Linked DNA regions of Homo sapiens: all the other regions are linked to region 6. Evidence: fine-mapped expression QTL. A gene starts in region 6. Each other region holds a variant in brackets. All regions are shown on one strand. Distances are from middle to middle. Region 1 overlaps VRK2 (VRK serine/threonine kinase 2). Region 2 overlaps VRK2 (VRK serine/threonine kinase 2). Region 3 has its middle 23 kb from the start of VRK2. Region 4 has its middle 24 kb from the start of LINC01795. Region 5 has its middle 71 kb from the start of VRK2. Region 6 holds the start of VRK2 (VRK serine/threonine kinase 2).

What was found. PIP is the estimated chance that this variant, and not a neighbour inherited with it, causes the effect.
Region 1: its variant is the best candidate, but not a certain one, in a credible set for the expression of VRK2 in whole blood (TOPMed, PIP 0.63).
Region 2: its variant is the best candidate, but not a certain one, in a credible set for the expression of VRK2 in whole blood (INTERVAL, PIP 0.67).
Region 3: its variant is the best candidate, but not a certain one, in a credible set for the expression of VRK2 in monocytes after LPS (Quach 2016, PIP 0.65).
Region 4: its variant is the best candidate, but not a certain one, in a credible set for the expression of VRK2 in whole blood (INTERVAL, PIP 0.50).
Region 5: its variant is the best candidate, but not a certain one, in a credible set for the expression of VRK2 in whole blood (INTERVAL, PIP 0.59).

What each region holds. Positions count from the first base shown.
Region 1 is chr2:58,073,609-58,078,751 of GRCh38, reverse strand. All of the region lies in intron 2 of VRK2 (VRK serine/threonine kinase 2), which reads right to left. Among named protein-coding and RNA genes, the nearest start is that of VRK2, 29 kb to the right of the region's middle. The variant C/G (reference allele first, on the strand shown) is at 2,796.
Region 2 is chr2:58,108,682-58,113,824 of GRCh38, reverse strand. All of the region lies in intron 7 of VRK2 (VRK serine/threonine kinase 2), which reads right to left. Among named protein-coding and RNA genes, the nearest start is that of VRK2, 64 kb to the right of the region's middle. RefSeq lists an enhancer at 634-1,218 and a silencer at 4,057-4,351. The variant A/G (reference allele first, on the strand shown) is at 2,507.
Region 3 is chr2:58,020,995-58,026,137 of GRCh38, reverse strand. It overlaps a transcript of VRK2 not described here. Among named protein-coding and RNA genes, the nearest start is that of VRK2, 23 kb to the left of the region's middle. The variant AT/T (reference allele first, on the strand shown) is at 2,159.
Region 4 is chr2:58,296,811-58,301,953 of GRCh38, reverse strand. No RefSeq gene overlaps it. Among named protein-coding and RNA genes, the nearest start is that of LINC01795, 24 kb to the right of the region's middle. The variant G/AG (reference allele first, on the strand shown) is at 2,233.
Region 5 is chr2:57,973,613-57,978,755 of GRCh38, reverse strand. It overlaps a transcript of VRK2 not described here. Among named protein-coding and RNA genes, the nearest start is that of VRK2, 71 kb to the left of the region's middle. The variant G/A (reference allele first, on the strand shown) is at 2,834.
Region 6 is chr2:58,044,717-58,049,859 of GRCh38, reverse strand. VRK2 (VRK serine/threonine kinase 2) reads right to left here and starts at 3,054. Exons shown (of 13, transcript NM_006296.7): 1 at 2,992-3,054; 2 at 893-1,033. The coding sequence starts at 1,028. It overlaps LOC107984043 (formin-2-like), which reads left to right and starts at 2,627. Exons shown (of 3, transcript NR_171623.1): 1 at 2,627-3,336. RefSeq lists a silencer at 2,802-3,071 and enhancers at 2,675-3,230, 3,222-3,341, 3,231-3,786.

The sequences.
Region 1 (5,143 bases), 29 kb before region 6:
AAAAACGCAAATCAAAACCACAATATCACCCCCTATCCATTAGGATGGCTACTATAAAAACAAACAAAATTTGTTTTAAATTTTGAAAATAACAGATGCTGGCAAGGATGCACAGAAATTGGAACTCTTGTGCACCGTTGATGGGATCATAAAATTACCCCATCACTATAAAAAATGGTATGGCGGCTCCTCAAAAAAATAAATAAAATTACCATATGATCTAGCAATCCCATTTCTGGGTATGTATTGAAAATAATTAAAAGTAAGATCCTGAAGAAATACATGCACACCCATGCTCATAGCAGCATTACAGACAATTAGCCAAAAGTAGAAGCAACCCAAATGGCCATGGACAGATAATTAAACAAAAGGTGGCATATACTTGGAATGGAACATTAATCAACCTTTAAAAAGAAGGAAATCATGTCACATGCTACAACATAAATGAACCTTGAGGACATTAGGCTAAGTAAAATAAGCCACACCACACACAAAAAGACAAATACTATATGATTCTACATTTATGAGGTATCTAGAGTAGTTAAATTCATAGAAACAAAAAAGTAGAATGCTGGTTTCCAGGTGCTGGGAAAAGAGGAAAATGGAGAATTACTGTTTAATGAATATAGAGTTTCAGTACTGCAAAATGGGAACATTCTGGAGATCTGCTGCACAACAATGTGAATATACTTAACACTACTGAACTGTATATACAAACACAGTTTTAAAAATTCTGCAGCCTTACGGGCTACCAAAGACAAGGATTCTGAAAGAGGGCAAGCTAAGAAGCTATCACATTGGCCTGAGAAGAAAAAGAGTTCTGTCCAAGAAATGACAAAACTATGTTGCCAGCTATCTCTTTGCTGGAAGTATAGAGACATCTAGGGAGTTAACAATACTTAGACAAATTTCCATGCATGAAGAAGGAAGAGCAACAGAATTCTACATGGTATTGTTGGCCTTATCCCACTAACAACAGAACTCTACAGTAAATTGTGGCAGTACGCACATTATTTTTCAATAGGAAGAAGAATCACTAGGATAAGTTCAAGAGAACTGCCAGAGAGGGTATGGAAGGATGTGATGAAGTGAGAAGTCTCCCAGAAAATTACTATGCTTTGATTATTATGGAAATATCTTTAGTTTAAGAGTGGTCACTTTTGGGGGCCAGATGACACTTCTAATCCCATTTAAACACCCAAAAATATATTTAAAGAAGGTTAAAAAAAAAATGGAGGAGACGCTTAGAGGTATAGGTTCTTTGCAGCCTAGTCTAACTTTTTCTAAGAGACAGAAGAATAACTCACCTACACAGATTGTGGGTAGGGGGCAGGAATTCTTCAGATAAGACTGGTCAATCAATTAGGATTTAGGAAAAATATCCTGAGACAACAAAGGCCTAGGATCAATTCAACAAATTAAGAATCCGAGGACTTGTGTGGAGGAAATCATGATTCAATGAACTGATAGGGTGTTCTAGGTTCTACACAATGTTTGTCCTTTGTATTTCAAGTTCTGCTTACACTAAGGTATTTAAAGCCTATAAAGAAAATATTTCAATAAATAATTTAGAGGAGAAAAAAAAGAGCGCTAAGCTCATAAAAGACAAAAAAAGATTGAAGAATTTTCCCAAAGGGAGTTACAGAGACAATGATAACTACACATATTGTGTCATCTTGGATTTTGAACCAAAAAAGGACATTAGTAGGAGAACTGGCAAAATTTTAATGAAGTATATAAATAGGTTAATAGTATTGTATCAATGCTAATTTTCTGGTGTTGATAACTATGTAATGTACTATGTGCTATTTTATAATATATCACCATTTAGGGCAGTCGAGTAGAGAATATGGAAACATTCTTTTTTTGCAAGCTCTTTAAAATTTAAAAATTAAAAGTTACAAAATAAAATTTTAAAGTATAAAAACAAACAAAATAGGTGATATTCAAGATTTCTCTTTAAAAAGGTAACAATCCTCTTACAAAATTGTGCGAGTACTGGAAAGAGAGCAAAACCATAGATGTGCATGAGATTTTGAAAAAAACTAATGATAAACACTATCATCTGTAAACTTAAAAACTTAGAAAAAATGACAATTTCCTAGAAAAAAATATAATTTACCAAAATAATTCAAAAAATAAAAAACCTAAATAGAAATATAATCATTAAAGGAAACAAATCAGTATTTCAAAAAAATGTAGACAGTCCTCAACTTACAATGGTCAACAGGGTTTTTCTACTTTACAATGGTGAAAAAGCACTGTGCATTCAGTAGAAATCATACTTCGAATTTTTAAATTTTGAACTTTTCTCAAGCTAGTGATATGAGGTATGATACTCTTACAAGAGATACTCAACACTTTATTAGAAAATAGGCTTTGTGTTAGATGATTTTGCCCAATTGTAGGCTAATAAAAGTGTTCTGAGCACATTTAAGGTAGGCTAGGGTAAACTATGATGTTTAGTAGGCTAGATGTATTAAATGCCTTACTGACTTACAATAATTTCAATTTATGATGGACTTATGAGGACATAACCCCACTGTAAGGAGCATCTGTACAGATAAGATGGAGTAGGAACACTCAACTGTAGCTCTCCCACTGAAAACAGCTATAAAATATAGACCAAAAAAAAAAAAAAAAAAGAAGACAGTAGCTATTAGAAGGCTCTTAAAAAGTAAAGAGAGGTTTCCACTCAACATATTAAGAGCTTGGAGGTCCTTACTCCTGTCTTCTTAAGGGGGAGAAAAAAGAAAAAAACTGAACAATCTGAAAATCAACAGCTTTTCTTTAAT[C/G]CATCAGAGAACTGAGGTTACAAGGCAAATCAGTGCCCAAAAACTGGAAAGACAAGTGAATACAGAGAATCACATCTTATTGGGGCAGAGTTTTACTATAAGCCCTCCATGTTCTCACAGTGAATATCAGAAAAATCTCCTGTTTCCAGCAGGGGAAGGGAAACTACTTTGCCAGAACCTAATCAACATGGGAGAAGAAAAATAACCACTCCAGCCTCTTCTAGCTTTCCTATCTCACCTAAGTAGGGTACAGGAAGCTGAGAAATACTGGTGAAGGTCACATCCTGGGGCATAGGCCCCCCACCAAAAAAATAGGTTTATACTTATCATTAGGTAAATCCAAATCAAAAACACAAGATACCATCTTGTACCAGTCAGGATGACTATTATTAAAAAGTCAAAAAACAATAGATGTTGGCGAGGTTTCAGAGATAAGGGAACATTTATACACTGCTGGTGGGAATGCAAATCAGTTCAGCCATTGTGGAAAACAGTTGAAAGACTCTCGAAGAACTTAAAATAGAAATACTATTCAACCCAGCAATCCCATTGTTGAGTATATACCCAAAAGAATATAAATTGCTTTACCAAAAAGACCCATGCACATGAATGTTCATTGCAGCACCATTCACAATAGCAAAGATCAACCTAGATGTCCATCAATGGTGAACTATATAAAGAAAGTGTGGTACATATACACTACGGAATACTACACAGCCATAAAAAAGAATCAGATCGTGTCCTTTGCCGCAACATGGATGGAGCTGGAGGCCATTGTCCTAAGCAAATTAACACAGGAATAGAAAACTAGATACTGCATGTCCTCACTTATAAGCAGAAGGAAAACACTGAGTACACATGGACACAAAGAAGGGAACAAAAGACAACGGCGCCTACTTAAGGGTATAGGGTAGGAGAAGGGTGAGCACTGAAAAACTACCTAATATGCTGATTACCTAGGTGACAAAATTATCCGTATACCAAACTCCCATGACGCACAATTTACCCATGTAACAAACCTGCCATGTACCACTTGAACTTAAAATAAAATAGGAAAGAAACTAAATAATAAAAATAAAAAGCAGATTTAGTCGTAAGATTATAAAAGGTCTCATATTCTCCCACACCTTACCAGCACATCAACAGTAGACCCACCTTGCAAGAAATGTTTTTAAAAAGCTCTTGAGAGTGAAGGAAAATAATATACCTGTTATTACTCACATCTGCAAAAGAAATGAACCGTGCCAGAGAGGAAATAAATGAAGGTAAAATAAAAGCTTATTTTTTTATTTTAATTGGCAAAAAGTTTATTCAAAATAACCATGTGTTGAGTTATTATAGCTTATGAATAAGTGAAATGAATTACAGCAAGAGACAGGAGAGAATAATTATAAGGTACCTGCACTAATTGTGAAGTAGTATAGTGTTATTTGAAAGTAAACTTTGACTAGTTGTAAATGTTGCCCTGCAAACTCTAAATCAACCACTAAAAATTTCTAAAGAAGAATTGATACTCCAAGAAAGGAGAGAAAACGGAGTCATACAAAATGCTCAATTAAAAACAGAGAAGGCAAAAAAAACAGATAAAAAACCAAGAAAGAACAAGCATAACAAATAGAAAACAGTTACAAATACAGCAGATAATAATGCAAATATACTAACAATCACTTTAAATGTTAATGATCTAAATACACCAATTAAAAGACAGATAGTGACAGAGTAGATTGAAAAAATAAGACAACTATATGATGTCTATAGGAAACCCACTTTAAATATAAAAACGCAGATAAATTAAAAGTAAAGGGACAAAGAAAGATCTATCATGCTAACACAAATCAAAAGAAAGCTACAGTAGCTATACTAATATCAAACAAAGCAGATGTGATGGTTAATACTGAATGTCACCTTGATTGGATTGAAGGATAGAAAGTATTTATCCGGGACCTGTCTGTGAGGGTGTTGCCAAAGGAGATTAGCATTTGAGTCGTGGGCTGGGAAAGGCAGGTCCACCCTTAATCTGGGTGGGCCCAATCTAATCAGCTGCCAAGGTGGCTAGGATAAAAGCAGGCAGAAGAATGTGAAAAGATTAGACTGTCTTAGCCTCCCAGCCTACATCATTCTCCCATGCTGGATGCTTCCTGCCCTCGAACATCCAACTTCAAGTTCTTCAGCTTTGGGACTCAGACTGGTTTCCTTGCTCCTCAGTTTGCAGATGGCCTATTGTGGGACCTTGTGATCATGTGAGTTTAATACTCCTTTATAAATTCCCTTTTATATAAATATAAATATAAATATAAATATAAATATATATATATATATAATCCTATTAGTTCTGCCCCTCTATAGAA
Region 2 (5,143 bases), 64 kb before region 6:
CCCTGTGAGTTGCAGGTATACGCCCAGATGGCCTAAGTAACTGAAGAATCACAAAAGTGAAAAGGCCCTGCCCCGCCTTAACTGATGACATTCCACCATTGTGATTTGTTCCTGCCCCACCTTAACTAAGTGATTAACCGTGTGAATTTCCTTCTCCTGGCTCAGAAGCTCCCCCACTGAGCACCTTGTGACCCCGCCCCTGCCCACCAGAGAACAACCCCCTTTGACTGTAATTTTCCATTACCTTCCCAAATCCTATAAAACGGTCCCACCCCTATCTCCCTTCGCTGACTCTCTTTTTGGACTCAGCCCACCTGCACCCAGGTGAAATAAACAGCCATATTGCTCACACAAAGCCTGTTTGGTGGTCTCTTCACACGGACCCGCATGAAAGTCTCTATGGTCCTCTTTCTTTCCAGAAGCAGCAGGAGGGGCTCTCTCTGAAGTTCCATCATCTGATTAAGGGAAGTTCTTCCAGAAGAAACGCAACTGTCTTTTTTTTTTTTTTTTTTGAGACGGAGTTTCGCTCCTGTTGCCCAGGTAGGAGTGGTGCAGTGGCACAGTCTCAGCTCACTGCAACCTCCGCCTCCCGGGTTCATGTGAGTCTCCTGCCGCAGCCTCCTGAGTAGCTGGGATTACAGCCGTGTGCCACCACGCCCAGCTAATTTTTGTATTTTTAGTAGAGACGGGGTTTCACCATGTTGGCCAGGCTAGTCTGGAACTCCTGACCTCATGATCTGCCTCCCTTGGCCTCCCAAAGTGCTGGGATTACAGGCGTGAGCCACTGTGCCTGGCCTAGAAATGCAATTGTCTTAAAACTCCTTCCCCAGGAATCTCATCAAATAACCAGGAAAGATTAGTCACCAAAGAAAAGACTAAAAGTCATAACCACACCCAGACAGGCTTTTATTCTTCTGAGGGCAGTTCCAAGAGATTACCTAAAAGACTTTATCTACATATTAAGACAACTTGTGTTCATAATGAAGTTCCACCCTTCAGCTTCCCACAATGTGCTGCAATGTCCCCCAGAGCTCAGAACAACTTTGTCCGAGGCCAGTAGTCTGTTGTTTGGGCTCATTCACTTCCCCTAAAAGTCATTTGCTTCTAAAATTGCATATACTTCCCCACTTCCCTCTTCCATATGAAGAGGGTATTTAAGCCTCAACCATCTGGACCTTCTTTGAGTCTCATATTTTCAGGACTCCCGTGTCCATGTACATAATAAATTTGTAGGCCTTTTTTTTTTTTCCTGTTACTATACTGTCAGCTCATTCCAGTGACCCTTCAGAGAAGCGTGGAAGAGAAGTTTTCTATCCACCCCTACAGACTACAATTAGGTCACACTGAGAGTTCTACTAAGATAACTCAGTAGAGAAAGACAGTCTAGAATTTTGCTAGAACAAAGGAGATGTGGGGGAGGGAAGGCTAGAAAATACCATCAAATAAGTAAAGGAAGGGAAGAAATGAAGTAATATCTTTTGAGGTTCTATTATCTAATAATCACTGGGCAAAGTACCTTTCTCAAATTATTTCATTAAATCTAGACAAACACATCCAGCCTGGTAGCACTGGTTTTATTTTACATATAAGAAAGCTGAGCATCCCAGCAGTTAAATAACTTGCCCAAGTCACAGAGCTTGTAAAGGATGAAAGCAGGATTCGAATCCTGGCTGATATGACTTCCAAATTCCATTCTCTTTTTTCAAAAATACAATATAGAATTAAGGGTTCTGTCAACTTCTGAAATTATGTTGAAGTCAAAAATGAGTTTGTGCAGAACTAAATCTATAGTAGGGGTCACAGTCTAGGTCCTATTTTTATACACCCTAAAGCTAAGAATAATTTTTACATTTTATAGAATTGTAAAGGGAAAGAAAAAGAGAAGAAAATGTAACAGAGAACCATATGTGACCCACAGAGCTCATAAAAGCCTAAAATATTTGCTTTCTGGCTCTTTACAGAAAAAGTTGCCAATCTATAATCTAAAATAAAACTTGTTTTGGTTCAAAGTTTTTTATATATTACCTTTTTTTTTCTGTGAAATCAAAAACAAACGGCTAATATTTTTCATTTTAATTGTAAATATGTGTAATACCCCTAGTTTTAAACAGGCCTGTCTGTGGAACTCAAGATTTATACCAGGATCAGGTAGGTGTGATTATTTGCGTTGTAGTAAGACTAGCCACAGGAATATATAAATAGTTACTCCCTATGCATTTATTTTTATATTTTTAAAATAGAGATGGGGTCTCACTTTTTTGCCTGGGCTGGTCTTGAACTCCTGGGCTCAAGCAATCCTCCTGCTTCAGCTTCCCAAAATGGTGGGTTACAGGCGTGAGCTGCCACGCCCAGACTCCTTAATGCATTTCAAATGATTGTCCTTTTATGCACTTTTTCTGAATGTAGCCATCATTTCCCTTCTCCATGAGTACGAGGGACAGCCTTACCTGCTTCCCTTCACCTTGACACAGAGATTTTTCTATTACACTGTATTGACTCTCACATG[A/G]TTTTCTTGCCTTTCTTAGACATTACTTTTTTTTATAACTTTGTGAGGTAGATAGGGAAGATGGATGTCATTATCAACATTTAACAGATGAAAAATATATTCCCAAACAACGTAAGCCACTCAACACTCACTAAGGCCAGCCTGTCCAAGGGTTTTGTTATTTTAGTGAACTTCTCGACTCCTCCAATAAACAACTAATTTTAACTAACGCTTTTACAGGCTTTCCATTTTGATACTTTGTGATTGAAAATGTAGTGTTGCAGCCACTGAGGTGTAATCCCATCAAGAAAGAAGCGGCCCTTTACTTGTAAGGAATGCAATAAGTCGACATCCACTAGGGGCAGGACCACTGGGTCCTACCACAGCGTGTGCACCAAGGCCACACTCTTCCTGGGCAGTTGATCATGGAGAGGGTGTGACTATTTCTACATAGCTGGGGTCTCTCCTAATAGGCAAGCTTTGCTCTGGAGCTCCCCAATGTCGGGAGTGGGCACTGAGATTTTGTCAGATCTGCATCATGTCTGAAGCTCTCCCTCCTCAATTCTGCCTCTGGTTCCCTTTCCTTTCACAAGTGTCAGATCAACATCCCGCTCTGGAAGCCTTCCCTGTTCAATCCTGCTTCCTCCCCTTTTATCTTACATGGGCATTAGATTTCCTGCCTCCAAAAAGCCCTTGCCCTCCTAATTCTATCTCAGTATTAGCCTCCCCAAGAACCCCATTCTTGGCAAACAAGGTAAGGAAATTGAGGAGAAACAAAAAAGTACTGTATAATAATACAAAGCACAAATTTGTATCAAAACACAGTAGCATCTGTGAGGCTACATATATTTTTTAACAGATATGAATGATTCTTGTGAACATAAACATGCTGCTGCTTCATTCCATGCTTCATTCCCTTTTTGTCATATAGTTATTTTCGTAAATATGCATTTGATTTATTGTTAAGATTTTTGCATTATGGTATGTTATTGAAAAAATAGGAATATATTATGCCCTATTAAAATAAATGATTGCTTTCTGTTTTGAAGAAAAGCCTTTAAAGTTGCTACATACATGTATATACATGTTCTCCCCAATTTATGACAGAGGGGTCAATAAATCACAGCCTTGATTAAAGAATGGAATGAAGATGAAAAGCAAATTAGCCTTTGAGTATGATCATGAAAAACACAAGTTTCATATACTAAGCAGTCCGTCTAGAAAATCACCTTCATATTTCACCTGGCCAGATCACCTTCCTATTTCACTTGGCCAGATTTGTACACAGGTATGCCATATTCCCAAGTTCTACACTTAGTTAAGCCTGTACTTCCAGTCTTCTTTGCTTCCTGATGCTTGTAGGCTTTTACACCGCTTTATTTTTCCAGATGGATGGGTAAAGCTAATGATTAAAAAGAACCCTCTGATTTTGTGGGCAACAGAGTAAGACCCCATCTCCAAATATATATATATATTTACATACAGAAAGAAAGAACCCTGTGAAATCCTCTCTCTGGTGAGTTATAAGAGAATGGCCTTTATATGTAGAACCTGAAATGGTTTGGCTGTGTCTCCACCCAAAATCTCATCTTGAATTGTAATCTGAATTGTAATTCCCATGTGTTGAGGGAAGGACCCCTGGGAAGTGATTAGATCATGGGGGCGGTTCCCGCATGCTGTTCTTGTGATAGTGAGTGAATTCTCCTGAGATCTGATGGTTTTATAAGGGGCTTTTCACCCTTTCCCTCAGCACTTCTCTCTTGCCAGCATGTGAAGAAGGACATATTTGCTTCCCCTTCTGCCATGATAGCAGTTACCTGGGGCCTCCCCAGCCATGCAGAACTGTGAGTCAATTAAACCTCTTTTCTTTATAAATTACCCAGTTTTGGGTATTTTTTTTTTTTTCATAGCAGTATGGGAATGGACTACTACAGATCCTTTTAAGCACAAGGCAATTTACTGGGTTTTCACCTTGTCCACATGAATCTGCTATTTTAACAATGTACAAAGTTATTTAGCTTTTTTAAATTTATGCTTTGGCTCCACAGTTAAAGGCTGTAGGCTCCTAGGGGTTGAGGGACTGGGATAATGTCATATATACATTTTTGTATCCATAACAGCACCTACTCTAAGGCCTTCTGCACAGTTGGTTTGAATAAATTTTAATTGATTTAATTGATAATAATTAGACAAACTGAACTAAATTTTTTTAACAGATACCTGAGTGCCAAGCTTAACAGATACCTGAGTGCCAAGCATAATAAACAGGAAATATACACTTCAAAAAAGAAAAAGAAAAATGAATGCATACTTATCAAATACTTGCTGTAAGAGCATTAAGTACTTTACATAAGTCAAATCATTTAATCCTCATGACCCTAAGAAGTTATTTTAAGATCTTTTGAGAATGAGAAAAAAGGATGAGTAAGGGTAGGTGATCTATGTAAAACAAATAAATTCTAGTAACTGGCAAAGCTGAGATTTGAACCTAAATCAATCTGACCAGAAGTTCTGAGTTATTTTCCATGTGCCTCACATAGCAGAAAGGGAGATGGCATAAGCACATCTACAGGCCTAGAGGTAACATATACTCTGACAAAAGCATAAAAGTCTATGAAATTTTACAGCAAGGAAAGGCTATTTCTAACAGGGAGACTC
Region 3 (5,143 bases), 24 kb after region 6:
GAACAAGTGAGACAGAGTACAATGTGAGACAGAGTACATTGAAAGAGGGAAGACTTGGAATAGTTGAAGTATTAAAATCCCCCAGTAGAGTCACATTTCATTTCATTAACACATAGTTTTATAGAACATTATTTAATGCATAAGGAGTAGTCATCTGTACTGAAATCACAGAGACCATTATATATTGATGAATAGCTTTGTACACCTTATAAATTAGATGAAAAGAAACTAGGAGTATGGGAGCAAAAGTTAGATAAAGGAAGCACTACTGAGAAAGGCTAAACAGGAGTCGGTAATCTGCAAAGGTCAAGCAAAAGGTTTTGAGTGTCCTTAGCAGAAGCTTACCTTTTCTATAAAGGCCACCCACCTGGCATCTTTTCTCTGGTAAACTGAACCAACCTTGATATACACCAAGAGAAAGCATTCCAAAACAGAAGGGCATCCTTAAGCCATCTTGGGGATTCATTCCATTTCTGAAAAATAAGTTCAGGCCACATTTCTTGGTTCTCTGTCAGAACTAAGTCAGACAATAAGATAATTTGTGGCTTATGAATGAGCAAAATTTATAAAATAACCTTGAGCAACAAACATAAGGTAGATAAAAGACATTTAACTTAAAATGATTAAAATATAGCAGACATTTTGATTAAAATGAAAACTAGCCTATGATTCTCTTCCTTTGTCTGGCTGTTTACTTAGGGATTTCTCCAAAATTGGCCTTTGAATTCTTCTTAAGAAGCCAAAAAGAAGAAGGAAACGACTTTCTCAGTCATAGCAATAGTAATGGCTTACCACATAATGAGCTATCAGTATATGGCAGGCCCAGTTCTAATTGCTTTATAGATATTAACTAATAGTTAAAAAAAAAAAAAATATGAGCAATGCCTTTTCTTGTGCCTATTTTACAGTGAATCAGCCTGAGGATCTGAGCAGTTTAGTTATCTGCCTAAGGTCACATATCTTGGAATAAGCAGAGACAGGATTTGAACCTAGGAAGTTTAACTATAGAATCTGTGCTATTAGCCACTCTACTAAACTGCATATGGTGTTCAGTGCAACATGGGATTAAGGACAAGGATGGCTCAACTAAAGAATGACCATATGAAGCGTACTTTGCCCACAAGAGAAGCCTTATCACATAGCCATTCTCTCTTTATTCTACAAATTAACCCCCATGTGTAAAAGCAATATCTGTCATCCATATTTACATTTGGTTTCTGGTAAAGGTTTTTTCCTTTATATTTGAATTTCTTTTGATAATGTTTAGCCCCCAAAATGATGGATTCTTCTCATAAAATTGCTCTCACACTAACCAATTAAATTTAGCATCTTCAGCATGCATTATTACTTAAATATGATGTGACATCTTAAGAGCTTAGTATTGTAGGAGTCGATTCTTTATGATAGCATCAAAACTTTGAAATAAAATGTCTTAAGAGGTTTTGGCCCTTACATGGGAGGTAACAGATTTGCTCTAAATGGATCTGTGGATAGGCTGGCTAGAAATAAAGTTGGATAGGCCCAATTTTAGGACAAACAATTCCAAAATAAAATATCAGGAAGGCCACAATTCTCTTTTCCACCAAAAATAAACAGTATTGTTAAAGCCAGTGGGAGTTTCTTCTCAATGAACTGCTGTTAACTATTACAAATTAACTGAATTTAGAGTTCCACTACTAATTGAGGTTTTACTCACTTAAGTAGTTTAATTATTTTAATGTAATAGCACCCCCCCAAAAAAACTTCTATTAATTCCTTATTTATTTATTTTCTAATCCTGTCATATCTACCTCTAAATTGGAAATATTTGCCACTGAACCCTCAACCTATTTACAAGTGTAAATTGTGGTTGTGAAACCTAAGGCCGATTCACAGAAACTATAATTTCAGCCTAAATACATGTTTATTTCAGGACTGCTCTCCTCTCTCCTCATCTTTGTACTTTTCCTGGGAGTCAAAAATATTTTTTGTACTTTTAGTAGAGACAGGATTTGGTGGCCGGCGCCTGTAGTCCCAGCTACTTGGGAGGGAGGCTGAGACAGGAGAATGACGTGAACCCGGGAGGCGGAGCTGGCAGTGAGCCATGAGCTGAGACAGCGTCACTGCACTCCAGCCTGGGCTACAGAGTGAGACTCCGTCTCAAAAAAAAAAAAAAAAA[AT/T]TCTTACCAACTAGTTATTGTTCATCATTAATACTCAATTGTGTGATTACAAACTTCTTTCCTTTTTTTAGTAAATCTCTATATTTAGATAGTTTGGTAGTGAGCATGACCACTCCTCTCCAAAGCTTCTATATTGATTCTTTAATGATGTTCAGGTGCTGTTTCCAGCTGACCCATCTTAGCAGCTCTGATTATACTAATTTTTTCATACATATCTTAAAGGCCTAGAAACAGAAATCTTTGATTTCTAATGTGTATCTTTGACTGCTATCTAAAGACGAAGACAGAAACATCAAAGGAAATGGTAAGCTTTGGGGATTTCCTTGATTTCACTTTCAAATTGATGATCATTTTAATTGCAGACATTTTATTTTAATTTGTTAGCAATTTTTAGGCAGAGGGTAGGCTTTCAAAAAATACATTTACTATTTTTTTCCTTCAAAGATAACCTTTCAGATTTGAAGGCAGAGATTTGTACAGATATATATATACATATATACGGATGTTCATAGCAACATTACTCACAAAAGCCAAGAAGCAACCAAAGGGTCCATTGACAATTGAATGGAGAAACAAAATGTAGTGTGTATGTATATAGAAATTTTGTTATATGCACACATACAAACACACACATATACACACAATGGAATATCACTCAGTCTTGGAAGAAAATTCTGATACGTACTACAACAGGGATGAACATTGAAGACATGCTAAGTGACATAAGCCAGTCACAAAAGGACAGATACGGTATGATTCAACTTATTTGACGTGCCTAAAGTAGTCAAATTCATACACACAGAAAGGAGGTTGGTAGTTGCCAGAGTATGTGAGGAAGGGATATGTGGAGTTATTCTTTAATGGCTACAGAGTTTCAGTCTGGGAAGATGAAAAAGGTCTCGAGATGGTTGGTGGTGATGTTGCAGAACAATGTGAATGTGCATAATGCCACAAAACTATACTCTTTTGAAATGGTTAAAATGCTAACTTTTATGTTATGTATATTTTACCATAGTAAAACAACCTCTGTAATTATTTAAAAATATCTCTTGATATCTATCCTACCTTCCAGTACGTAAACTTCCTCATATTTTTTTCTTTTTTGAGTCAGGGTCTTGCTCTGTTGCCCAGGCAGAAGTGCAGTGGTGTGATCTTGGCTCACTGCAACCTCTGCCTCCTGGGTTCAAGCAATCCCTCAGTCTCAGCCTCCTGAGTAGCTGGGACTACAGGCAAGGGCCACCATGCTTAGCTAATTTTTGTATTTTTATAGAGATGAAGTTTAGCCATGTTGCCTGGGCTGGTCTCAAACTCCTCTGCTCAAGTGATCTGCCCACCTCGGCCTCCCAAAGTGCTGGGGTTGCAGGCGTGAGCCATCGTGGGCAGCACAGTATATGAATTTCTTACCTCTCATATTCGTTTTGTGACACCATCACAGAATTTCTCAATGACAACATACTCTTTTCCTACATTTGCTCTTTTCCTACTCCCCTCAACTTTTACAAAATCTGCCTTGTTGCTTAAAACACTATACAAAATTTACATTAGAAACATAATGTCTACGTAGCATCAGCACTGTGGCATTCACATTTTCCCACTGTGAACTCTAGGCAATGTATCCATGACTGTCAAGCATTATAGCATTCCATGCTCACTCAATTCACAGGCTGTTCCTGGCGGTTTCACAGAACTTTTCAAGTAATTACTTTCTTTAGTATCAAGGGACTTATAACAACCAAAGAGCATGTTGCTCATCTCAGTCATTGTCTGGGTGCAGTGACACCCATTCTAAAGGCACTGACACTATTTTGTGAGCCTGACCTCATGATTGAGATCACATAATTGCAATAATTAGGAAACTCACCTCAGGATATTATCAAAATGACCCACCCAAACCCAAGTCCATATGGTTTGAAATAGCTAATGAGTCAGTTAATGTGCTATGTCCAGGAGTAATGGGTACTCAATATGGATAGCATGAAGGTATAATTTACCAACGTTCTGACTGATTAAGGGTTTCAAGTGGACATTTTACAACCTAAACAGGGTATGAAGTATTAACACTTTTGATGGTTGAGACAAAAGGAAGAAACAGTGTTTAAAAGTCAGGGACATTGGAACTTGAACAATTTCTTTCAATCATATTTTCCAGGCTTACAAAGTTAATACTATATAAAATGGAATGAAGATGTAGGTTTCGGTAGCCAATTGTGATAATGTGGAAAGGTATGGGGGATGCTACTGGCTGAGTCCTTTGCATAACAGAAAAATAAAGAAAATGCTGAAAATTCAATCCACTGATTTGGGGGTGGGGTGGGGAAAAGAGGGAAAGTTCTATTACAAAGAAAAGATAGAATTAATATTAACAGATGTCTATATGGAAGGGATTCACTGAGTGATTAGATATATTTTTATTTCATGGTAGTATAAACCCAGATAAACGGTCATAGTATTTTTGGCTAATTTGTTGTCTGCAGTATCTTGGAGACAATAAATATTTAGTCCAAGCATACGTATAAATTGGGATTAAGAAAAATTCTAAAGTAATGTTTTAATACTAATTTGAAACCTCTATGATAAAGGTCTGTATTACATTTTTTATTTTGGATATGAAGGGATGTAAGCCCAGTGCATTCTTATACAGAGTGCTTAATTTGGAGTCCATACACACTCAGTGGGTCCCTGGTTAGATGTTAGGAACAATCTGTGAGCTTGGAAAGGAGGGAAAAAAAAATCACATTTTAATTTTTCACTCATTTGTACTGGAATTTAGCATTTCCTGTAATTATATAGCAAATCATTAGGATTAGCATTATGTGTGATTTTTTCCCACAAAAAGTAGTTGAAGATGTTTTCATATCACAATAGAGCTGTTTAGCTCTTCCAAAATATCATTCATATTCATCAGTATTACAAAAGTCTGGCTGATATTAGACCTACTGCCAGGTCTAATATTTAAAAACCAATTTTAACATACTTTGTTTCTT
Region 4 (5,143 bases), 250 kb before region 6:
AAAACTATTAAAAGAAAACATAGATGTAAATCTTAATGACTTCAGATTTGGCAGTGGATTCTTCGATATAACAAAAATTTTGATGAAGTCCAATCTATTTTTGCTATTATTGTGCAAGCAAATAATTTTGGACTTCATCAAAATTAAAAACTTTAGTTCTTCAAAGGACACTACAAAAAGGTGAAAAGACCACCCATAGAATGGAGGAACATATTTACAAATCATATATCTGATAAGAAGCTTGTAACTAGAATATACAAAGAACTCTTACAACTCAGTAATAAAAAGATAAACAACCAAATTAAAAATGGACAAGCAATCTGAATTTTGATTTCTCTGAAGGAGTTATACAAATAGCCAATAAGCGCATAAAAAGATGTCATTATTAGTCACTGGGGAAGTGCAAATTGAAACCACAATGAGATACCACATCACCCTTAGTAGGATGACTAGAATCAAAAAGTCAGATAATAACAAGTGTTGGCTAAGATATAGAAAAATTGCTGGTGGGATGTTAAATTGTAGATCCACTTTGGAAAACAGTCTAGCAGTTTCTCAGTTAAACATTGAGTTACCATAAAATACAGGAATTCCACTCCTAGTTAAATACCCAAGATAAATAAAACATATATCCATACTAAAGCTTGTATACAAGTGTTTATAGCAGCATTATTTATAATGGTCAAAAGGTTCCCACCAATTCATGAATAAACAAATGTAGTATGTCTATACAATGAAATATTATTTGGCCATAAAAAGTAATGATGCATTGACACATGCTACAACACAGATGGACCTTGAAAACATTAATGGTTTCTTGGGGATGAGGAAGCTAAGAGGGATTTGGGGTCATATCTAGAGGGATGCAGTTTGAGGTGATAAGAATGTTCTAAAGTTAGCTGTGGTATCTGTGTGTATACTAAAAACAATTAACCTTGTACATTAAGTGGGTGAATTGTATGGTGAATTAAATTTTTAAAAGCTGGGTTTTTTAAATCCATTATAGAGAAAGGAAATTATGCATCTTCAGGTAGAGATCTTCATTAAAAATAAATAAAATACTTTTGGTGAAAACCCACATAGTGGTGTTAGGATATATTCAATTTTATTTATATATTTATAAAGGATTTTATGCCCAAAATGTGTATATAAGTCTATAGCTTATGTATAGGGCTCTGTAGCAGAGCCTATGCTCCATAACTCTATCCTCTGTTTTGAGTATAGGACTTAATTCCGGACAGATACAGAACCCTACTTTTCTAATATTGCATAAATATTTCTCATAGTGAATGGAAGTAACCTGGGAGACGTAATGTAATGTGCTCTTTGCTTTGGGTTATTGACCTTTCTTATTTTTTATTCATCCTCTAAAAAGAAACAAAAGCAGGAAGAATTAACTCCTGGCTTCTCTGTTAATCTTGTCTGCTTCTCCTTCATTACCACCTCCTTCAGAATTGAATACTATCATGTCTTCTCAGATCTTTCCATCTAACTGCATCACAGCACTTATTCCATCCTGAATCATTTCCTTATTTTCAAGCACTTGTTATCTCCACAAGATGATAAGTACCTTGAGGTCAGAGATTATGTGTTATTTATCCATATTTTACCACAATTACAGACCTTCACTAAATTTCTGCAGAAGGAATGAAAATTTTACATTTGTGCATTCTAGAAGATGAGCTTTTCTAATAACTATAACATGAAATCATAAAAATTTAGAGTTGAAAGAAACCTTAGAAAATATTTGGTCTAATCTATCAATAAATGTAAGAAAACTTTCCATAGCATTTCTTAAAAACACTTTATTCAAGCCACTATTTGAATATTTCTAATGCCAAGGAATCTGCCTTACAAAGTGATTAATTGCATTTTCAACTAGCTTTTATTGTTGAAACGTTCATCATCAATGTTAAATCTAAACTTGTAACTTCCTCCCTTTGGTTGGTCTAAGATCTGTCACGTATGGCTATACATTATCTAATTTATCTTCCATGACAACATATGAATTATTTAAAGACACTATCATAACACTCCTTGTTTTCTCTGTGCCAAGCTTTCCATTTTATTCAAATGTTTCTTATAGACATGATTTCTGGACCTTTTATCATGTGGATTCAGCTCCTGTGGACATCACCAGATTTTTAATATCCACTTTAATTTGTACTTCCTGGAAATGGAACCCACAACATGTGACTGGTGTCAATTACACAAATGCCTTTTCCTTCCTTA[G/AG]TCTATACCCTGGGCTTTGTTAATGGGACTAAAGCTACATGAGTTATTTTGAAAGCCATATCACACCATAGTCTTCTACTAAGCTTGCCATAAACTAAACTCTTCTGACATTTTTTTCCATGCAAGGATCCTGTGAAATCAGAGCTCTTTAGTTCTTAAACTTGCAATTAATCTTTTCAACCTTCATACAAGATTCTATATTAATTTGTGAAATAAACAAAATGCCCTACACAAACCAGGTGTTCAGCAGATGTCTGTACCTCCTTTTCACAGCACTTATTACAGAAGTAATATTGTGTTTATTATTTGGTTATTTAAGAGGAGGGCCCATGTGTATCTTTAGTCATCACTATATTCTCATCACTTAGCAAAGTGGCTAGCATAGAGTAATTGCTCAAGAATTCCCATAATTCTTTTACTGCATTGCCATGCTGCTGAAAACAACAGTGAATTCAGAGAACTGATTTGCTTGCATTAGCAGTCAATTCAGCCAAAACAATTGAGTGACCACATGGTGACAATGTTTGAAATAATCTTCTTAATAATAAACGTATTATGGCCAGTGCCATAAAAACCCAAAGCCACATTTCCAAAATATGCCCCATCTTACCTAAGAATCTAAACTTTGTGTCAAACAACTAAAGTCCCATAACCTGAAAGATTATTATTTTTTACTAAGTATGACTCTTCAAATGCCTAGTCTCTACAACATTAGCTTCTAATTAATAGGTTCGTTATGCTGATGCCATTGTTGCCATATGTAAGGTTCCAAGGAAAAAGGGTAATGTTTTATTTTCTTACTTTTACTAACTCATGAAATTTTGATTTGAGTGTGTATAATTTGTAAGATATGTAATCTTTTCTGTTTCCTTGATTAGGTAAAGGTAAACGCAAAGACAACTCAAAAAACTCATTTTTTTTAGAGTACAAAGGTGACTGATAAATAAATCATAGGTACTTTGGAAGAGATGAGCTTCTCTGCAACCTAAAATTTCTAATTAAAATTGAGCTGTCCCTATTGTGTAGTATGTGGAGGCTAAAGTTTACCTTTTATATCATACACCAACTTGAACACATTATTTCATAAATTAAGCATGAAATTCCAACTGATTTTAAAATTTGGAAAGCTTTTTGTCATTTTTGATAGCCTCCTATTTGAGGACGAATAGGCAGACAAACCTCCTGTTCTTTAATAACATAACATTAAGTACTTCTTGGAAACAGGACACAATAGAGAGAAGGACTGTTTATGAGTCAGAGGAACATGTGCTACTGTCAACTTGAATAAGAGGCATCAGATATTTCTGGTGATGAAAACCTTTCAGTGAGGTGAAACAGGCCACGTTCCATTTCTTTTATTTTCAGAGATGAGATGGATTTGAAAACCATAACCTGGCTTCTTGATGCAAGGACTCGCCACATGAGATAATCTCCAGCACATTACTATTGGCAAGCAGATCTTTCACCCTTTTGTCTCCATGCATTACAGAAAACGTTAAATCAGTTTGGTGTCCATATAAACTTTTGATCCTAGGAATAGCCTAGGGTACCATCATTATCTTCCCGAGGACCATGTGTAGGCCTTCAGTAGGTAGTACTAATTTAATCTCTTTGCTAGAGGAAAAAGTAACTGATTTTCTAGATCAATATTTGATTGAATATGTTTGAAATGTTGGCAGATAAAGGCCCCTTTTCTGGTCCAAAGACTTTTTGAACCACAGAGGTATAGCGTTCTAGCTCCCCTGGGATTTGAGTGGAAGGAGGTCTCAAAGATCTGTAAGAAGCCTTCCTGCCTTTCCTTGTGTTCTTCCAGCAAGACTCTCTAAAGGTTGAGATGAGAAAAAGATAAGATCAAGAACTGGAATGTCTTTATTCCATTTTTTTAATCTTTCCTGGGGCTTCTCTTAACTAAAAATAATCGTTTATACCACTAGTTTACAAAAACCTCCTGTAATAGGATGTTAGAAAGAGAGCCCATCTGATCAGCTTTAAGGAGTTAACCCAGTGACTTTGGCAAATAATTTGAGACCTCAGATTCTATCATTCATACCACTAATTAAACAAGAATATCAATATATCAGCAACAGAGAGATGAATACAAATTAAAATGCTAAGGTGTTAGACAGATTAGAACTTTAGTTGTCTAGTTATATTGATAAGCAAAAGAGGTTTTCACAAATTATACTGATTTTGAAAATGGAGACTGGGAAAAAATTCCATCCAAATGATATTTGACCAAACAGAGAATTTAGTTCAGAAGCACATATTTCACTGTAATTATTATATTTGCTTTTTAAAGTTTTAGTTAAATTAGTAAACCCTTCCCCAAAACAAAACATTGAAAAACAGCTTACATCTGACTGAAAAGTATTACTCAGAATAAATAGCACTAACAATACTGTTTTCTGAGTCTACATATGAAATTCAAAGAAAGATTCTTGAGGAGAATGTTTTCCTTTAATTTTCTCCTTTGCTGCAGAAATGCACATGCATTCCCTAAGCATGAAGAGAAAAAAAAATACTCACAATTTCCTGTACTTTCTTTCTTATCATTGAACTTTTGTTTAGCTGAAGGATAAATTTGCTTTCCCCTAGCTACAGACTTTGAACACAGAAGTATGCTTTATAAAGGAGTAGCCACCACATGCAAAGCCAACTGCAACTCCTTGGAAATGTGGATTCTAAAGGACTTATTTTCCACAGCTTAAGCCAAATCACTTCTCTTATTCTGAGATGAGAATATTATGGTCATTTAATTTTTTGAGAATTTCTCACAGTTTTAATCTATTTTTGTAAAATCTTCTATTCAAAGTAATGATATTCCCAATACAAACTGAATAACTCTTCAGGGCATTAGATTATATTTCTTACTTAAAATGGTAAAAATCAGCCTGCAAAAAGGGACATAGTT
Region 5 (5,143 bases), 71 kb after region 6:
ATGACACATGTATACCTATGAAACAAACCTGCATGTGCTGAAAAAGAAAAAGGAAGAAAGAAAGAAAGAAGGAAGGAAGGAAGGAAACAAATCAAGTAAGCCAATATATAAAAAAAAAAAGATACTTGGCCTGAGGGATCACATGATCCATGTCTCTAGTGATGTGGCACCCAATATGTCAATCAATATGATTTAGATCGGGATGGTAAGTTGGCAGCATGTTTGAAATTTCATAAAGATTGTTCTGCTTGCCTTAATTTTATGATGTCAATGACTTAAATTTCATAAAATGTTTATTAAGCAAGTGACTGGCTTTTTAGGTCTTCTGTTATCAAGGCTTAGAAGTGGACATGGCTGAGATCTAGAATGTAGCTATGAGGCAAATCGAAAGTAAAGCATTATGTCCCACACTGTGAATTTGTAGGAATTACTGTAATAATTTTTTTCTAATTGTTTCTGACTATGTCCATCTGTAACCTGGTTATTTATTAACAAATTTTTGGATATGTTCAATTTTTTAAGAATCACCCGAACTTCATACTGAGTGGTATTTTTCTTTATGCTTTGGAATCAGCACCAAGTATGTTAATGAATTATTTTTTCACCCATTAAGTCCTTTTTTTGTAACATACATTATTAAACAATACTCTTAAAGTAGAAAAAAAAGCTAATTCACTATGATCAAATAGTCTTTATTTCTATGACTTAAGCTTAGTTCAGCATATGCAAATCAATACATGTGATTCATCACATAAGCAGAAATAAAAACAAAAGTCACACGATCATCTCAATAGATGCAGAAAGGGCTTTAGATAAAATTCAACACCCTTCATGTTAAATACCCTCAACAAACTAGTCATTGAAGGGACATGACTCAAAATGATAAGAGCCATCTCTGACAAACCTACAGCCAGCAACATACTGAACGAGCAGAAGCTGGAATCATTCCACCTGAAAACCAGAACAAGACAAGAATGCCCATTGTCACCATTCCTATTCAACATCGTACTGGAAGCCCTAAACAGAGCCATCAGGCAAGAAAAAGAAATAAAAGGCATTCAAATAGGAAGAGTGGAAGTCAAACGATCTCTCTTTGCAGATGATATCAGTCTATATGTAGAAAACGTCATAGACTCTGTTCAAAGTCTCCTAGGACATAAACAACTTCAGTAAAATTTCAGGACACAGAATTAATGTACAAAAATCGGTAGCATTTCTGTATACCAACAATGTCCAACCTGCAAGCCAAATCTAAAACACAATCTCATTCACAAAAGCCACAAAAAGAAAAAAAATACCCAGGAATACAGCTAACCAGGGATATGAAAGATCTCTACAATGATAACTACAAAACACTGCTGAAGGAACTCAGGGACTACACAAATAAATGAAACAATATTCCATGCTTATGGATAGCAAGAATCAATATTGTTAAAATGGCCATACTACCCAAAGCAATTTATAGATTTAATACTATTCCTATCAAACTGCCAATGTTATTTTTCACAGAATTAGAAGAAAATGATTCTATAATTCATTTGGAAACAAACAAACAAAATCCTAAATAGCCAAAGCAATCCTAAATTAAAAGAACAAAGCCAGAGGCATCACACTACCTGACTTCAAATTATACTACAAGACTACAGTAACCAAAACAGCAGATATTGGTACAAAAACAGACATATAGACCAATGGAGCAGGTTAGAGAACCAAGAGATAAAGCCACACTCCTAAAACCATCTGATCTTTGACAAAGTTGACAATAGGGAAAGGACTCTCTCTCTATTCAATAAACAGTACTGGGAAAACTGGCTAGCCATGTACAGAAGATTGAAACTGATTCCCTTTCTTTCACCATATACAAAAATCAACTCAAGAGGAATTAAAAATTTAAATATAAGACCTGAAACTATAAAAACTTTGGAAGACAATCTAGCACATACCATTGTGGACATAGGTCTTGGCAAATATTTCATGACAAATTCTCCAAAAGCAATTGCAATGAAAACAAAAGTAGACAAGTGGGACCTAATTAAACTAAAGAGCTTCTGCACAGCAAAGGAAATTTTCAACAAAGTAAATAGACAACCTACAGTAGGGAAGAATATATTTGCAAATTATGAATGCGACAAAGATCTAATATCCAGAAACAATAAGAAATCTATAAGGAACTTAAATTTATAAGCAAAAAACAAACAACCCTATTAAAAAGTGAGTAACTGGCATGAAGAGATACTTCTCAAAAGAAGACATACAAGTGGCTAACAAGCATACGAAAAAATGCTTGACCTGCAGAATGGCTATTATTTAAAAAGTCAGGAAATAACAGACATTCAGATGATTGCGAGGTTACAGAGCAAAGGGAATACTTATACTCTGCTGGTGGGAATGTAAATTAGTTCTGCCGCTGTGGAAAGTAGTTTTGAGATTTCTCAAAGAACTTAAAACAGAACTACCACTTGACCCAGCAATTCCATTACTGGATATATGCTCAAAGGAATGTAAATCATTCTACCAAAAGGCACATGCACTTGTATGTTCATCACAACACTATTCACAATAGTGAAGATATAGAATCAGCCTAGATGCTGAACAGTGGACTGAATAAAGAAATGTGGTACATATACACCATGGAATACTACACAGCCACGAAAGAATGAAATAATGTCCTTTGCAGCAATATGAATGCAGCTGGAGGCCATTATCCTAAGTGACTTATCACAGAAACAGAAAACCAAATACCACATGCTCTCACTTATAAGTGGGAGCTAAACGTTGATTGCATGTGGACACAAACGGGAACAACAGACACTGGAGTCTACCTGAAGGTGGA[G/A]GGTGAGAGGAGGGTGAGGGTCAAAAAATACCTATCAGATACTATGCTCACTCCCTGGGTGAAGAAATCATTTGCATATCAAACCCCAGTGACATGCAACTTACCCATGTAACAAATCTGCACATGTACCCAACTGAACCAAAAATAAAAGTAAAAAAAAAAAAGAGAGAGAGAAAACCAAATATGGCATGTTCTCACTTATAAGTAGGAGCCAAATCTTAGAATCTTGGGTACATGGTTGGGGACAGGTGGTAGGGACTCCGAAAGGAAGGAGGGAGGAGTACAAGGCCTGAAAAACTTCCTACTGGGTGCTATGTTTGCAGTCTGGGTGACGGGATCAGTAGAAGACCAAACCTAGCATCATATAATATCCCCTTGTAACAAACATGCACGTGTACCCCACCCCAAATCTAAAATAAAATTGAAATTTAAAAAATAGAGATGGAGGAAGGGGGTCAGAGCCAAAAATTTCAAGATAATACATTTGTGTTATTTGAAACCACAAAGTTTGTGGTAATTTGTTAAGGCAGCAATAGAAAACTAATATAAAAAGTCTATAGAGTATATCCTTGTTTTTTGGCACTTACTGTTGCTTCTAAGAAATTTACTGTCAGTCTGATTTTGTTTAGCATTTTTATGTGTTTGGAGCATGGTTGATTTGGGGTGTGTTTCATCTCAGTCACTGATATGAATACCTTGGTATTAAATGTATCTTTGTTATCAATTTCTTGGTAACAGTATATTTTTTTTCATTGTGATTATAGAACATCGTTTTCACAAATTTTACTTTAAAAATGTTAAGGGTTGTCTATGGTCTAAAATATGATGAAATAATTTTATAGCTAATTCATGAAACATAATAAATAACATGTAATCTCTATAATTTATGATATGCTGTATAAAGTTTAACATATCTTAAAACTTATATTGTTTAAATTATCTTTATCAATTTGTATAGCCTACCTGATCTCTCAAACCTATGAGATGATCAATTCTTTCATTATTATTATGTAATTTTTAAGTTTCTGTGTGTATATATAAATAGCTTTTATATTGTTTGATGGCATTATTCATCAAGTAAGGGTTGGCTGTTTTATCTTGAGTATGTTTTTGCAGTTTATTATTTTCTGCTTTTATCTTCATTAATTCTTTTTACTGCCTACTTTTTGATTTCCTTTGATGTATGTTTTCTAGTTTTACAGTTGGCTGTTTCCTTAATCTTTAAATGTTTTCTATTTAATAATTGAAGTACATATTCCTATGAATTTTTCTCTGAAGTGGCTTTGCCTTTATCTCACAGTTTATATGTTCAAATTTTCACTGAATTCTAAAGAGTCTATACTTTCAGCTAATTTTTTAGAAGAATTTTTTTCCTATTTTTATGAGACTAGATTTATAATTTTATATTTAGTTTTTTGTTCTTTGCACTGTAATAAGAGAATATGGCCTGTCTGCCTTTTTGAATTTAGTGGGATTTTGCTATACATCTTACTACGTAGACAATTTATAAAAAAATCCCATATATACTTTAAAAGTGTGAGTATTTTATGTTAGTTTGTTTTAGAATTACCAATATTTTAATCTGTTGGACTTTTGTGATCAATTAAATCTTGTTTAATTGTCAAGTTCACACTTGATCTGACAATTTTGGAAAGAAAGATATTATAAAATATTTCTTTATGATTAAAGCTTTATCAGTTTTTCTTTCGATCCATTTTCTTCACAGCAGAAACAATAGCTTTAAATAAATATAAAAACCTTATATGGCTTTCCATTTTGCTTAGAATAAAATATTAACTTGTTTCTGTTATCTTTCCCAGCATTCTTTAATCTGCAACAAACACTAAGCTAACTTCTTCCTCAGAGCCTTTGCACATGTCACTCTCATTTTCTGGAACATGTCTACCTCCTCACCTTCCACCTTACAGTTTGTTTTTGGCATCTGGCTTCTCTACCTCCTTCTCATCTTACAGTTTCAGGTGTTTAAGTGTTTCTCCCTCATATAAGCCCTCATAGAACTAAAATGGGCTCTTTCTTAAAGAAGAACAATTTTCAACTAATTTTTTTTTCTCCACTAGATATTGGCCTCAGCTGCTTTGAACGCAGAGGTTCCTCTGAGACTTTTGGGGATATATATATATATCTTTCAAGAAGTGAAAACCTCTCAGGAAGTTGTCCTTTCTTTATCGTTAAATTTTAGCTCTTGAAAATGATGTGCTTCTTTGCAATTTTAATCATAGTTTCATCATATCTTCCACAAAATCCTAAAATTTACTGCTGCTTTGATGGCCCACTTCATAGTTTGACAGT
Region 6 (5,143 bases):
AGAGGATCTTTTATATTTCAGGATCCATGAAGCATGTTTTTCTGGAAATATGTGATGAGAACCCAAGATTCCCTCAACGGAGGTATTTTATCAACTCCTTAATCTCCTATAGAAATAGATGTGATCTCAAGTCTCAAGTGAGTACATTTAGGAGAATTTATCCTTGAGGGTATATTTTTAAAAATCACTACTATTTTCCTTATTTTATTAATCAATCTTTTAATGGATATCCCCTCCTCATTCCAACTCAATGATCCATTAAAGTTCAGTGTAATTTTTAAATGCTTAAATGCAATGTAAAGGCCTATCCAGCCCATGGTTCCTTACCTGTACCACAGATCACAGAAAATAATTTTGAGTGTTTATTTTTTCAATTATCCCAAGAATGGCACATCCCTAGGGACCACTCTAGATGCACGAGAGAGAAGTTAATTCATTTCACAGAATAGATGCCTTAAGTTTTATCTATGAATTCTCCAGTAGAGCCCAATTAAGAAATGACTAGACTCTTGTATTGCCTAAATATTGATTAAGATTCACAAACAGAAAGTGTTTTTATCTATACAGTTGTGGTTTCTCATCTGAAAAAAGCATGTTTCTAAGAAAACAAGCTCTCAAAAAAAAAGAAAGTTAGCATTTTGTCTGGCAGATTGTATAATTATGCTCTAAAAAGACTTCTAAGATTTACTCAGAAAAACATGGACAACAAGGAGTGGGTCAGTGATGTCTTGAACCTAGACACTGTACTCTATTATTACTTAATCGAGTACAATCATGAATTTTAATAAAGTACACATATGAATTCCATATTTCCATTCTTAAAATACCACTAAGTAATCACGGTTACAGTCACAGATATAAGAATAATTGTTAATTTAAGGTTTTACTTTACCTAAATATATCAATCCAAATCCTCCAGAGCCAATCTTCTTGCCCAGTACCCACTGATTGCCTTCCATATCATCCAGAACCTTGCCTTCTGGAAATGGAATAGGAAGTTTGTATTTTTCATTTCTTTTTGGTGGCATCACTTCTGTTGGCAGAAGGGGTGAGATAAATGGGTAAAAAGAAAAACAAACAAACAAAACTCTTAAAATACACTTCCCAAAATGTCTTCAATAGGGAACTTTCCCAGGTTCCCAGAAATTAGGATTCTAAAGTTAATTCAGTTTGGAAAAGCCCACACATTATATTCAAATTAGAAATTCACATACATTACAATACTGAGATCTAAGAGGTATAGATATTTTAAAAAAACAGAAGCAAACTAACCAAATTTCATCCAAAATTCATTTCGGGGTTCTATAGCACATATTAACAGTGCAGGACACACCTTAAGAAACACGAAATTAACAATTTCCAATGAAGAAAGAAAATAAATTTCATGTACATGGAAATATTGCTGTCACTGAGAATGTAAAATGTTAAAAGTGAGAAGGTCTTCAGTCACTAGAAAAGAACACAGGATTGGATTGGGAAGACACAGACAATGGCAATGGACATCTCACCACCGTGATACTAGGTACTCAGTAAACATTTGTTAAATGAGCCAGGGATTTTCACGGATATGTAACTTAGCAGAATACTAGGCCATCAGTTCTCGGGCTGCCAAAATATTCTCAGCATTTTGTCTTCTTACCCTCTTTCTCAGTTTATCACAGTGAAAACAGTCCTGCCTTAGAGATTACAACTGTGCCACCAACAACAAAAGCATAATCTCCACAGCACAGCCATGCAACTTTAATCAACTAATTATAATTGTACATAGGTTAGCAAATTTCTCAATGGGAAATTCTGAGTTAAAAGAGAAAATTTCTTAGGGGAAAATACATATGCCAGCATACATGCCTGAAAATAATTTAAATGTGAAGGTAACCATGATCCTCTAAGTATTTAAAACTATTAAGAGTTTCTGACATGAAAGTTAATTAAAAACGTATATACGTAAATGTAAAGTTTTCTTAATATAATCTTCCTAGCTTCCATAAAAGAAAGTATCTGTTTTTCCTTTAACGGGTTTTTCCTCCTTCACTTAACTGCTTTTTTACTTAGCAGTATTGTCCCAGGTAGAGTCGCTGCGTGTATCTTTAACAATATTCACCTTCCTCCTGATAGGCACACAAGGGCTGGGAATTTGGATGGTGAACTATGCCTAGAGCATTGATTGTATCATAAAGCAGGAAAAGTTTTTGTGGAGGTTTCCCTTGACCAGTACATTATATAGGCTGGTGCCTATTACAGATTTACTGATTTAAAACTTAAAGTCTCCAAAGTGTAAACTACTGATTAAGGAATAAATTCTAAATAATTATAAAAAAGATAAATACACTTTGGGGCAAGGCAGCGGCCTCAGGGCTTGAGGCGGTAAGGGAGACTCTACGAAATGTACATCCTGGGGGCGAGTCCCGAGTTCATCTGCCAAGGGAAACGACAGCCTCTCAGGGCCCGTCCCTGTCAGGGGTGTCCCTTCGGCTTCTGGGTACCTTCCCAGGGCTAAGATGAGTCCTCAACACGAGTTTCCGAGCAAACTGGTACCCAGGGGTTAACATGTGCCTGGGCTGACCTCCAACCCCGCCGCGGCCCCTGACCCTGCGGAAGGTAACGAGAAGCAGCGCGGCCCAGCCGCCTGGTCCGTCCGCCCTTAGCACGCCGGGGACCTACGGCCAACCCCGCGCCCCAACTTCCCGCCACAAGTTCTCTCTGCACCGGCAAAAAGAGAAACTCCACCCACTTTTCCGCTAACACGTCGGACCCGCTTTTGGCAAACGTGAGTAGAAGGGGACGCCTTGTTCTCACTCCCAGCGGGGAAAAAAGAACCAAACGCGGAAGCAGCGACTCTGCCCGGGCCGGAGCTGAGGCCCGGGGGCTGGGACGGCCCGGAGTCCCCGGCATCTAACTCCGACGGCAGCCCTTTTCCGAGCGGGGCCGCGGCTCCGGCACTGCAAGCGGAGGTGCCGCCCGCCACCCAAGACCCCAGAGCAAGAGACTGACCGGGCCTCAGGATCCCCCGTCGCCGGGCCGCGCGCACCGCCTCCTACCTGCCGCTGCGACGAGGCGGAGCCCCCGGGCCTACAGTCCCGCGGGGAGGCGGGCCCAGCACTCGAGCCTGCCCTCCCTAGGACCTGCCTAACTTCTCTCCAGCTGCGTCGGCCTCGCAGTGCAGCGGCCCGCGGAGCCTCACACAGGCCGCAGCCGGTTCCTTTCAGCGGCCTGTCCACGCCCCGGAGACGCCCAGGGGAAGGAGAGGGCGCGGCTACATGGGGAATGGGAGCTGTGTTACTACCTCCACCCTGGCCCGCCAGCGTCTGGACGAAGAACCGCCGCCAGACCAGTTTGGTACGAAATAAGCACGACATGCATTTGTGTAGGAGTGTTAGATCTCCTGTACCACAACCTGAGTACTACGAGCTTCCAAATGGCTAGTCCTTACCGAGCTCTCGCCGAGCAACTAACTATTGGTACTAGCGAAGACTCCAGTTAGGAGGGCCTGTATGTAACTCACCGCGTTTAAGTTCTCAAAGGCATATTGGTTCAGGACCTATTTCTGCCATTAATCGTAGGATAATTTAACACCGTAATTAACAAACTTCAGGTTTTTTTGTCTGTGAAATGGAAATAACCCTTGTTGTTAGATTATAAGGTTATTGGTTATAAGATTATGACAATAAGGTGAGGACTTTATTAAGCAGTTTTCTAATACATAAAGACTCATAGTGGCCAGGTGCGGTGGCTCACGCCTGTACTCCCAGCACGTTGGGAGGCCGAGGCGGGTGGATCATCTGAGGTCAGGAGTTTGAGACCAGCCTGGCCAACATGGTGAAACCCTATCTCTACTAAAAATACAAAAAATTAGCCAGGCGTGGTGGCGGACGCCTGTAATCCCAGCTACTCGGCAGGCTGAGGTAGGAGAAGCGCTTGAACCCAGGAAGCAGAGATTGCAGTGAGCAGAGAGCGCGCCACTGCACCCCAGCCTGGGCAGCAAGAGGGAAACTCAGTCTCGAAGGAAAGAAAAAAAAGACTCATAGTAAGCTTATATTTTAGACTAAACCAAACAAATGCTTAGACAAAGATTATTAATACGTCAGCATTCTACATAGTAACCACCAATAATTGGTTGGGATACAAATACTGAAAGGAAAATTAGAGCCCTTTAATGACTTTGATAGAATAAGGAATTGGGGCTCCCTACATCTTTCAGACTGTCACCAAAATGAAAGATGGCATGAGAAGACGTTTCTAAAAACAAACAAAAAAGTATTTTTAAAGAAACAGTCCATAGAATAATTGTGCCCTTAGTCATTCACTGGTCCAACAGTGTCCTTTCTTATTTTCTTAAGATATTTATATAACAGATGCATAATTACAGATATTTATGTAACAGATGCATAATAATCCTAATATCCATATTGGGTACTCTTTCCTCCTTTCCAAATTTGTTTAGCTTTCCACCACTTCCCCGGCTCCCTTTTGAGAAGAAACAACTCCAGTAGCAACCACAGCAGATTACTTGTAGGTGGTTCCTCTCCCTACAGGCATGTATCCAGTGTTAGTAAATCCTGTTGGCTCAACCTTCAAAATACATCCAGCATCTATCACTTAGCACCCTTACCTGCATTCTGGCCCAAACCATATTTTTTCTCTAGGTAATTGTATTACCCTCCTAAATGTTTTATACCCTCTTATCCCTTTAGTCTGTTCACAGCAAGCAGCCACATGATCCTTAACGCTTAAATAATTACTGAGCTTAAAACAATTCAGTGTTATTCCAATTTACTCACAATTAGCCAGTCTTCGCTATGACTTTAAACAGCATTTCTCAACCTGGGCACTATTGACAGTCAGCCTGGATAATTCTTTGTTGGGGGTTTGGGAGAAGGAGGAGGATTGAGAGATAGGCTGTCCTGTGCATTGTAGGATATTTAGCAGTATCCCTGGTCTCCTCAGCACTCCCTCCCACACAAGTTAACAACCAAAATATCCCCCAACATGACGAAATTTTGCCAAAATTGCCAGTCGTTGAAAAGAACACTGATCTACCTATTATGCACTCCCACTCCCCAATGTCCTATTACTCTCTTCAACCACAGTGGCCTGCTGTTCTCAAGAACTTTTCGCATTTACTGCCACCTGGACCACTCTCCAA